3 linked regions of the Homo sapiens genome follow. The protein of the gene in region 3 purifies or fractionates together with the protein of the main gene of each other region. This does not show direct contact. Each region holds a gene or a part of one and is shown on either strand. Other genes may lie near its edges. The genes, in order: YJU2B, PTCD1 and GLI4.

Region 1 (3,095 bases), on a different chromosome or scaffold from region 3:
ACTTGGGAGGCTGAGGCAGGAGAATTGCTTGAACCTGGGGTGGAGGCTTCAGTGAGCCGGGATCATGCCACTGCACTGCAGCATGGGCGACGAGCGAGACTCAGTCTAAGCAAAAACAAAACACAAAAAACCCAACATTAGCCAGGTGTGATGGCTCATGCCTGTGGGTCCCAGCTACTTGGGAGGCTTAGTGGGGAGGATTGCTTGAACCTGGGACATCGAGGCTGCAGTGAGACATGATTTGCCGCTGTACTCCAGCCTGGGCAACAGAGTGAGACCCAGTCACAAAAAGAAAAAAAATAAATAAATAAAAGGAGGCAACCAGGTAGGTATCTCCCATGGCATGGTGAGGTAGGGGTGAGCTATGGTCTCAATGTCTGTGTCCCCCAAATTGATATGTTGAAGCTTAATCCTCAACGTTGACAGTGTTAAAAGATGTGAGGCATTTGGGGAAGTAATTAAGTCAGAAGGGCTACGTCCTCACCAATGAGATTATTGGACTTATAAAAGGAGGCTCAAGGGAACTTGTTTGTCCCTTCTGCCACATGAGGACACAGCTAGAAGCCACCGCCTATGAGAAATGGGCCCTCACCAGACACTGGATCTGCCAGCGCCTTGATCCTGGACTTCGCAGACTCCAGAACCATGAGAAATAAAATTCTATTGTTTATTTTGGCTGGTCTCGGTGGCTCACGCCTGTAATCCCAGCACTTTGGGTAGGCCACGGTGGATCACTTGAGGTTGGGAGTTCGAGACCAGCCTGGCCAACATGGTGAAACCCCGCCTCTACTAAAAATACACAAATTGGCCAGGTGCGGTGGCTCACGCCTGTGATCCCAGCACTTTAGGAGGCCGAGGCAGGCAGATAACCTGAGGATGGGAGTTTGAGACCTGCCTGACCAACATGGAGAAACCCCGTCTCTACTAAGAATACTAGCTGTGCGTGATGGTGCATGCCTATAATCCCAGCTACTCAGGAGGCTGAGGCAGGAGAATCACTTGAACCCGGGAGGCAGAAGTTGCGGTGACCCAAGATCATGCCATTGCACTCCAGCCTGGGCAATAAGAGTGAAACTCAGTCTCAAAAAAAAAAAAAAAAATTAGCCAGGCGTGGTGGTGGTGGGTACCTATAATTCCTGCTACTCTGGAGGCTGAGGCAGGAGGATTGCTTGAACCCAGGAGGCAGAGGTGCAGTGAGCCAAGATTGCGCCACTGCACTCTAGCCTGGATGACAGAGCGAGATGACTACTGTCTCAAAACAAAAAAAAAATTAATTTCTATTATTTATTTATTTAGAGATGCTGGGGGAGGGGGGGGGTGGTGTCTCACTATGTTGCCCAGGCTGATCTTGAACTCCTGGCCTCAAGCGATCCTCCCAATGTGCTGGATTACAGGCGTGAGTCACTGTGCCCAGCCAAATTTCTACTGTTTCTGTCTATGGTATTTTTTATTATAGTAGCCAGAATGGATTAAGACAGGGCATGGTCACCATGTAGCAGATGGGGAAACTGAGGCTCAGAGGGTACAGTGGCCTGCTCAAAGCTAGGATGTGGTGGGGGGAGGGCTGGACCCGGGCCTTGGTCCACCATGCATCCTCTCTGACCCCGGGCTGGAGCCCCCCTCACCCGGAACCTTCTCCGCAGCATGCTGTTGAGGGCGAAGTCGTCCTTCCAGGCGCTCTGGGCCTCCTGGATGTGGCTCAGTGTGGGCAGCGCCTTCTTGAGTGTGCTGCGGTCGGCCTCGCCATGCTCCAGCCGGAACATGGCGTCCGTCTCCAGCTTCTGCTTCTTCTCATGCTCTGCAACGATCAGAGCTCGGCTGGGCTTTGGGGGCCCCAGCGCAGACTCAGGGCCAGGGCCCCCAGGCAGGTAAGTGGGTGGCGCTCACCTGTGGTCAGCACCTGCTCATTGTCCGCCATGTCCCAGCGCTCCTCCTTGCGCTGGGCGCCACTCACGATCACGTAGTCGCAGTTGGCGGGGTCCGTCTGCATCTCGATGTAGTTGACACAGAGGTGGCATTTCATCCGGAACCTGGGAGGGAGCGGTGGGCAGGAGTCAGGAGGCTGTGGCTGTGCACCAGGACAGCCCTGTCGCCTCTGCCTGCTTCCTTCCACCCAATGGTGTCATTTGACAAAAATTCACTGAGCACCCACTGTGTGCCGTGTAGAGCCACGGGCAAAAAGGGGCACATCCGGGCACCCAGAACGGACCTTCTGTCAGTGGGGCTGCAGTTGGCTTATTCATTTGTTCATTCAGCTGTTTGTTCATTCATTCATTCCCTCATCCATTTTTTTGGTTCATTTATTCGTTAATTCATTTGTTCATTCATTAGTGCATTTGTTTGTTGGTTCACTGATTCATTTGTTAAAGTAATTCATACATTCATTTGCTCATCCATCCATTTGTTAATTCACTTATCATTTGTTCATTCTGTTCATTCATTTGTTCATTCATTTGTCCACTAGTTCATTTATTCAACAAACCCGCCCAAGACAGGCTGCTCTGTGGCAGGCTCAGTGCCAGCTGCTGGGGAAATTGCTGAGTAGTGGAAAAGCCAACTTGCTCATGGAAAGGCTGACGTCCCAGCAGGGCCCACCTTGATAGCAAGGGCACAAGCAACCAGTGTCAAGTCTCACTTTAGAAAAGGTGTCTCTGAGGGGTGCTGTTTGAGCAGAAACCCCGGGTGAGGGAGGAGCCTTGGAGCTACCTGGGGAAGAGCATTCCAGGTGGAAGCACAGAGGTGGGTGTGTCCCTGGGGTGTGTGAGGGACAACGAGGAGGCCAGGGAGGGGGACAGCAGGAGGAGGTTAGGGTGAAGAAAGGACAGGCAGAGTGTGTGGTGCCTTGTGAGCCAGGGGGAGGACTTGGGCTTTTACTGAGGAAGGTGGGAGCCATGGAGGGTTGCGGGGGTGGGGTGTGCCCTGATTCACCAACCAGGGCGATTTCCAGGAGTCCTGCAGGGAATGGGTTCCCCCCGCAACTCAGGCTCTTTGTAGCCCCCTCGCCCTGTGGCCACCCCACCTGTTCCCAAGATGCCACCAAGCCGCCCTTACCTGTAGATCGGGGTTGTGTAGTAATTGCCCACCTTCTTCTTTTC
Region 2 (3,648 bases), on a different chromosome or scaffold from region 3:
GAATGACTCCTGGGTTGCACCTGCAGAAGTGCTAATGGGGGTGTGGGAGGGTTGAACAAGTCCCCAGGTGAGTGTGTGGCAGGCTTTCAAGGAAGGTGAGTTTAGAGGGGCTAAGCCGACTGCAAAGCAGGGTGGGAGGGGCGGGGGCCACCCTCATTCCATCTCCAAGGGCCTCCTCTCCCTGCCATCTGTAGAATGGAGGCTACAGTGGCTGCTGGGTTTTCAGAAAAGAGCACAGATATAAAAATACTCAGCACAGGGCCATCGTGGGTGCTCACAGGATCACCATTTTGCACCTCTGGCACCGGGGAAGCAGGGCAGGAAGGTGGGGTGGGAGGGACATACCTGGAGGGCGTACCGGAAGCCTGTCTTCTTGTCTTGGATGCAGCCCATGAGCAGGAAACTGAAGGTCTCCTCTGTGACCACGTGCCCTTTGTGGATGATTTCCTGGGGGAGGGAACAAAGACGTCCCACTGAGAACCTGCAGCAGGCTGGGCATGGTAGCTCATGTCTGTAATCCTGGCACATTGGGAGGCCAAGGCAGGATGATCACTTGAGGCCAGGAGTTTTGTGACCAGCCTGGGCAACATAGCAAGACCCTGTCTCTAGGAAGCCTTCCCTCGAGTGCACAAAGCAGGACACAGCACACGGTGGCATACACAATCTCCAGTAAGGTCTCATCAGATCCATCTGTGAACCCCAGGGCCCAATACCGGCTGTCTCATCCTCCCTAAGCCTTCCTACATGAGGAGAGACAGACACCACAGCCCTGCCCCTGACACGTGGGACCAGCCCCATGAAGGGGAGCAGGACGGCAGGGGAAGCCCCACCTTGAACACATCGAGGCACATCCTAAGGTCTGCGCACTTGGCAGCCATCTTCAGCAGCGCGTGGTATGTTTTCAAGTTGAGCTCGAAGTTTTTGGCCTGCAGCTGCTGCCGGAGCTTCAGGGCGCTCTGTAGAGCTGAGTCCTTCCAGGGGGACTCGGCACAGACGTTGAACAGGGCCGTGTAGGTGGCGTCCGAGGGCTCCAGGTCCCGCTTTTTCATCTGTGGAGATGGAAGAAGCTCAGTGGTGGCCCGGGATCAGCTGGACGCACAGGTGAGCAGCTGCCCCAGAGGAGGCTGAGGCTGGAGAGGACCCCGTCACTGCATCCACCAGGCCAGGCTCTAAGGCAGAGCCATGGACACATCAGAGCCCAGCTCTCCAAACTCAGACACATTGAAGGGACTCTGAAAACTGAGCCCACACACCCAGATGTACCAAACAGGAGCTACCCTGCCCTGGGCACTTGTCAGCCCACTCCAGGCCTGGGGTCCTGGCAGCAAGGTCTTCCTGATGTCCCCACCTTCAGGCCACCCCGTCAAGGGGAAAGGGCCTGTAGTGCTTACTACCTGAGGGCTCCCGGGCAAGTTAGCACTTCCTCGCGAAAATGGGGATGACACCATCACCTTGAAACCAGGCATGCCTGTGGCAAGTGGGAGGATGCACTGCAGTGCTCTAGGGGTGGCCCCGAACCAGTGGCACAATGCACATTCTCAGGGCCACCTGATCTGGTAAGTCACAAGCCCCGGAGCTGAGTGACACTCAGCTTACTGAGCCTCCAGGGGACTAAGGCATGTGCTCAGGGTTGACAATCCGTGGTGAAGCCTAGCACTCGCTATTGGCCAGAGAAGGGCCATCTGGACAAAGGCAGGCGATAGGCAGCTCAGCGGCAGAAAGAACCCTGCTAGAGTCAGGCCATCTGGGGCTCAAATCCCAGCCCCGGTGCATTCAAGTGGGGTGGCCTTGGACATGTCCCTTCATCTCTCTGTGCCTCAGTTTCCTTATCTGAAAAGCAAAGAGGGCAGTCCCTACTTTGAGGATGATGTAAGCTCTGCGTGTATTGCTGCACTCCACAGAGGTGCACTGACAACTCACTACCTGCCCAGCAGCAGCCCTGGGGTTAGCAGAGCGGGCACAGCCTATCCTTACTGAGCTTACACTCAAGAAGGGAGACACACTGCAGGTGAGTCACCAAAAACAGTAACAAGGCTGGGTGCCGTGGCTCACGCCTATAATCCCAGCACTTTGGAAGGCTGAGGTGGGCAGATCACCTGAGGTCAGGAGTTCGAGACCAGCCTGGCCAACATGGCGAAACCCCGTCTTCTACAAAAAACACAAAAAAATTAGCCAGGCATGGTGGTGGGCGCCTTTAATCCCAGCTACTCGGGAGGCTGAGGCAGGAGAATTGCTTGAACCTGGGAGGTGGAGGTTGCATTGAGCCGAGGTCGCACCACTGCACTCCAGCCAGGGTGACAGAGCCAAAACTCCCGTCTCAAAAAAATAAATAAATAAAATAAAATAAATAAAAACAATAAAAATATTAGTTTTTTTTCTTTTTTTTTGAGATGGAGTCTTACTCTGTCGCCAGGCTAGAGTGCAGTGGCGTGATCTCGGCTCACTACGACCTCCCTCCACTTCCTGGGTTCAAGTGATTCCCTTGCCTCAGCCTCCTGAGTAGCTGGGACTACAGGTACGTGCCACCACGCCCAGCTAAATTTTGTATTTTTAGTAGAGACAGGGTTTCACCATGTTGGCCAGGATGGTCTCAATCTCTTGACCTCGTGATCCGCCCACTTTGGGCTCCCAAAATGGTGGGATTACAGGTGTGAGCCACCGCACCTGGCCAAAAATAATAGTTTTTTAAAATAGATGTAATGGGCTGGGTGCGGTGGCTCACGCCTGTAATTCTAGCACTTTGGGAGGCCAAGGCGGGTGGACCACTTGAGGTCAAGAGACCAGCCTGGCCAACATGGTGAAATGCTGTCTCTACTAAAAATACAAACAAAATGAGCCAGGCATGGTGGCATGTGCGCCTGTAGTCCCAGCTACTCGGGAGGCTGAGGTATGAGAACTGCTCGAGCCCAGGAGGCGGAGGTTCCAGTGAGCCGAGGTCGCACCACTGCACTCCAGCCTGGGCGACAGAGCGAGACTCTGTCTCCAAAAAAAAAGGACTGTAGGAAAAAGAAAGAGAGATCAGACTGTTACTGTGTCTATGTAGAAAGAAGTAGACACAAGAAACTCCATTTTGTTCTGTACTAAGAGAAATTCTTCTGCCTTGAGATGCTGTTAAACTGTAACCCTAGCCCCAACCCTGTGCTTGCAGAGACATGAGCTGTGTTGACTCAAGGTTTAATGGATTTAGGGCTGTGCAGGGTGTGCTTTGTTAAAAAAGTGCTTGAAGGCAGTAGGCTTGATAAAAGTCATCGCCATTCTCCAATCTCGAGTACCCAGGGACACAATACACTGCGGAAGGCCGCAGGGACCTCTGCCCAGGAAAGCCAGGTATTGTCCAAGGTTTCTCCCCATGTGATAGCCTGAGATATGGCCTCGTGGGAAGGGAAAGACCTGACTGTCTCCCAGCCTGTCCCCCAGCCCGACGCCCATAAAGGGTCTGTGCTGAGGAGGGTTAGTGAAAGAGGAAGGCCTCTTTGCAGTTGAGATAAGAGGAAGGCATCTGTCTCCTGCTCGTCCCTGGGAATGGAATGTCTTGGGTGTAAAACCAGATTGTGTGTTCTATTTACTGAGATAGGCGAAAACCGCCTCAGGGCTGGAGGTGGGACCTGCTGGAGACAATACTGCTCTTTGATGCACGAGATGTTGTGT
Region 3 (3,642 bases):
GCCCACACCTGTCAAGACCTGAACACCCTGGGCCCCCACACCCCAGGGCAAGGGGCTGGTGCAGAGGAAGCCCGGGCCACTGCTGCCCAGCAGGCCCCCCACTGAATGGAGGCAGCAGAGCTGACAGGGCACGTGGGGAAGCCTGCTGCATTTACAGAAGCAGAGGCCTCCCAAATACATAAGGGAACCGAGTTGCCAGAGACCCCTCACCCAGGTGGCAGACAGGCAGCCTGGCCAGGCCTGTGAGCACTTCTAGACTGGCCCCGTCCTCGACCCCTGCTCTGGGCGCGCCCCCCCCGCCTCCCGTGTTGATGGTGGGGTATCAGCTTTGGGCAAGTCAGGACACCTCCAGGCCTCAGATCCTCCCCTACGACACTCGGGCCGCCCGCCAGACCCCAGGGACCCCGTGGCCCTGTATGGCAGGTCTTGGTGGAGCAGCCCCATCACCCCCATCCCGCAGCGGGTCCTCGGGGACAGGAAGCTGCCCCAAGGTCTCACCCAGGCAGGTGCCGGCTCCCACTTCCAACAATCAAAAAGAATTTATTCCGGACACGTGGCATGCGGTGCTGGGCAGTGCCCACCGTGGGGGACGGGGTGGAGGGTGGGTTGGGGGCAGGTAGGAGGCCGAGCCCCGAGCCCCCGCCCGGCTACTCGCGGTAGTGCACCCGCTGGTGCTGGATGAGCTGGGAGCTCTGGCCGAAGGCCTTGCCGCAGGCGCCACACGCGAAGGGCTTCTCGCCCGTGTGGGTCCGCAGGTGCCGGAAGAAGTGCGAGCGGCCGCGGAAGGCTTTGCCGCAGTCGGAGCACTCGTAGGGCTTCTCGCCAGTGTGGATGCGCTGGTGCTCGATGAGCACGGAGCTCCAGATGAAGGCCTTGCCGCACTGGCTGCAGGCGTAGGGCTTCTCACCCGTGTGCAGCCGCTGGTGGCGCACCAGGTTGGAGCTCTGGCTGAAGGCCTGGCCGCACTCGCCGCACTTGTAGGGCTTCTCGCCGTTGTGGATGCGCAGGTGCTGCGTGAAGTGCGAGCTGTGGCTGAAGGCGCGGCCGCACTGGCCGCACTCGTAGGGCTTCTCGCCCGTGTGGATGCGGTGGTGCTGGATGAAGCCCGACCAGCCGCGGAAGCGCTTGCCGCACTCGTGGCAGGCGTAGGGCTTCTCGCCCGTGTGGATGCGCTGGTGCTTCAGGAGCAGCGAGTTATACTTGAAACTCTTGCCGCAGGCCTCGCACCTGTGCGGCTTGGCCCCCCGCGCGCTGCCCTGCCGGCTCCGACCGAAGTTGACTCCCAGCTCGGCAGCCCGCTCGGGCGCACCCTCGGGCCCGGCCGCTGCTTGCTGCACGAGCGTCACGCGCCAGGCGCCCCGCGGCTGGGCGCAAGGGACGGCCCCAGGCGGCTGGCCCGCCGGCCGCTCCGCGCTGGATTCAGGCCCGAAGCCGGCGCTGCACCGGGCCCTGCGGGGAAGGCTCCTCAGGAGGCTGCGCAGCGCCCCGCCCGCCCCCTCGTCAGGGGCCTGAGAGCCAGGAGAGCGTGGAGCCTGCTCCGGCTTGGGCTCGGAGTCTGAAATGAGAAACGGCAGAGGCGGATAGTACCCGCATGCCCCCACCGTGGCACGGAGGGACGGGGACGGGGAGTGAGAGCAGAGCTGGACGGGGGGGCTTAGAGGGGACAAGGAGGGGCCAGGCACCCAGTGGATGGGAGACAAGCGGACAGGGGCTCGGAGTGCCGTGCCCAGGAGAGCTGACATAGACACAGGGGTGGGGGGCGTTGCAGGGTGACCCAGAGCTGCTGGGACCATCCACAGTCACCACGGCGGCCGTGCCGGTGCACGGAGCCACAGTGGCAAGACAGACCATGGGGTCACCCTTAGCCAGGAGGAAGCACTAAGTGTTGGTGAGGACCCGGAGCCTGGGGGACGCCAGAGCTCCAGAGGGCGCCTCAAAGCCCTTGCCGAGGATGTGGTCCATATGGGCACAGCTCCTCATGGGGCTGCCCCAGGCCTCGGTGGCAAGTGTGCTGCCGCCCAGCTCCCATGCCCACCCCAGGAGCTTCCCACGCAAATCTCTGGCCCAGGGTCTCTTTCCAGGGACCTGACCTCAGACACCTGCTCCCCACCCCAGGGCCGCCCAGATGTGGGCGAGGGCTCAGCACTGTTAAATCCAGCCATATCACTAACATCGCCCAGAGGGAACCCTGGGAGCTTCTCAAGGGGGAGGTGCAGGGGACCTGGACACAGCTCCAACCAGGCTGAGGGGAGGCCATCTAGGGGATGCAGGAGGAGGAGGGGACACAGGATAACTCGTGGATCTGGGGGGACAGTGGTGCCCTGAGCCAGAAGCCCCAGCCCAAGGCAGGTGGAGGGGAGGGAGGAGTTCCTGATTCACTGTGTCCAGCTGGGGCCGGCAGGAGTCCACGTGGGGCCACTGGCGCAGGTGGCTGTGGGCTGCAGTCACCGCCTCGGGAAGCATCAGTAACTGGACTGGCATTAGAGTGGGGGAGGGGCCACGGGGCAGAGGTGAGCTGATGCCAGGGAAGAAAAGGGGCCCCAGGAAGGGGGTGGTGCCAGCATTGGGGGTGCCACAGAGGTGGGCATTGTGAGGAGCCTGGCACGCGCAGAGCTCTGGTCCCCCAGTAACCCGATTCTGCTCACTCACCGGGCCAGAAGGTGTCTCTGCCGATCTCCACTTCCTCTACGTCTTGGAGATCCAGGTCGGACGGCTGGGAGAGCACCTTAGGGCTGGAGCCAGGGGAGCCTGGGGGTCAGGGAGGCTGGGGCTCACCTCCACCCTCTGGACCACTGCCTCCGCTCCTCTCTGACCGCCACGTGCTCCCGGGCTGTGGCCCTGACACAGGACACCTCCTGGCCCTCCCAATCCCAACAGCAGGCCCGCTGCTTGGGCTTCTCTAGCCACGAATGCCCTTTACCTTCCTTCCCAGCTCGGTTCAAGAGCCTCCTCCTCCAGGGGCCAGCATTGGGAGCTCATTCCCCTTCAGCCCAGTAAGCAGAGCCAAAACCTGGGGGAGCTTTGAAGCGGCCCTCCTGCCGTTGAAGGCGGCTTTGTCACCTTGGTGGGCTGTGGCCCACCCTCCTCCATGCCCCAGCATCCTGCAGTGCTGCTCTGGACCGGCCTCTCAAAGTGCTGGCCCTGCAGGCTCCCACACCCGTACCTCACAAAGCCTTCCTGCCTTGGCCCCAGACCTTTCTGTCCCTCCGGGGCTCTCTGCTGTCCTTGACGAGCGCCCAGAAACAGCAGAGGCAGCTGCTTCCAGCAGGCCCAGCGCACTGGCCCCTGGCTTCCTCAGGCAGAGCCTGAGGAATGGGCTGGGCCCATCTATGAGCCCCTCACCCCTGGGCACACCAGGCTTGGGCACCCAGGACCAAGACCCCCCTCCCACCCAAGACTTGGTGGGGGCAGGGTGGGGGGATGGCCTTAATGCTCAAGGAGCACAGACTGAAAAGGGAGGGGCGTGGGCTCCACTGCCCGAGGCCAGTGGTCAGCTCTCCTCACGCCAGCAGGGGCACCAGGCCCCTTTGGGGGTCTCACCTGTCTCCTCAGTGCTGTGCCACCTTGGTGCCTCACCTGCCCCCTCAGTGCTGTGCCACCCTGGTGCCTCACCTGCCCTCTGCCCACAGCAGAGAGGGTGGC

The links.
Region 1: the proteins of GLI4 (region 3) and YJU2B purify together in Homo sapiens (co-immunoprecipitation; one large-scale study listed by IntAct). This does not show direct contact.
Region 2: the proteins of GLI4 (region 3) and PTCD1 purify together in Homo sapiens (affinity purification with mass spectrometry; one large-scale study listed by BioGRID and IntAct). This does not show direct contact.

The regions. Positions count from the first base shown.
Region 1 is NC_000019.10:13,757,803-13,760,897, reverse strand, and holds part of YJU2B (probable splicing factor YJU2B), read right to left. Parts: coding exon 3,052-3,095; intron 2,031-3,051; coding exon 1,888-2,030; exon of another isoform or gene 1,799-1,887; coding exon 1,626-1,798; intron 1-1,625. UniProt on the Homo sapiens protein: May be involved in mRNA splicing.
Region 2 is NC_000007.14:99,428,758-99,432,405, forward strand, and holds part of PTCD1 (pentatricopeptide repeat-containing protein 1, mitochondrial), read right to left. Parts: intron 1,050-3,648; coding exon 831-1,049; intron 448-830; coding exon 346-447; intron 1-345. Other genes in the region: ATP5MF-PTCD1 (ATP5J2-PTCD1 fusion protein), read right to left, coding at 346-447, 831-1,049. UniProt on the Homo sapiens protein: Mitochondrial protein implicated in negative regulation of leucine tRNA levels, as well as negative regulation of mitochondria-encoded proteins and COX activity. Also affects the 3'-processing of mitochondrial tRNAs.
Region 3 is NC_000008.11:143,273,810-143,277,451, reverse strand, and holds the end of GLI4 (zinc finger protein GLI4), read right to left. Parts: intron 2,749-3,642; coding exon 2,650-2,748; intron 1,556-2,649; coding exon 648-1,555; 3' UTR 521-647; downstream 1-520.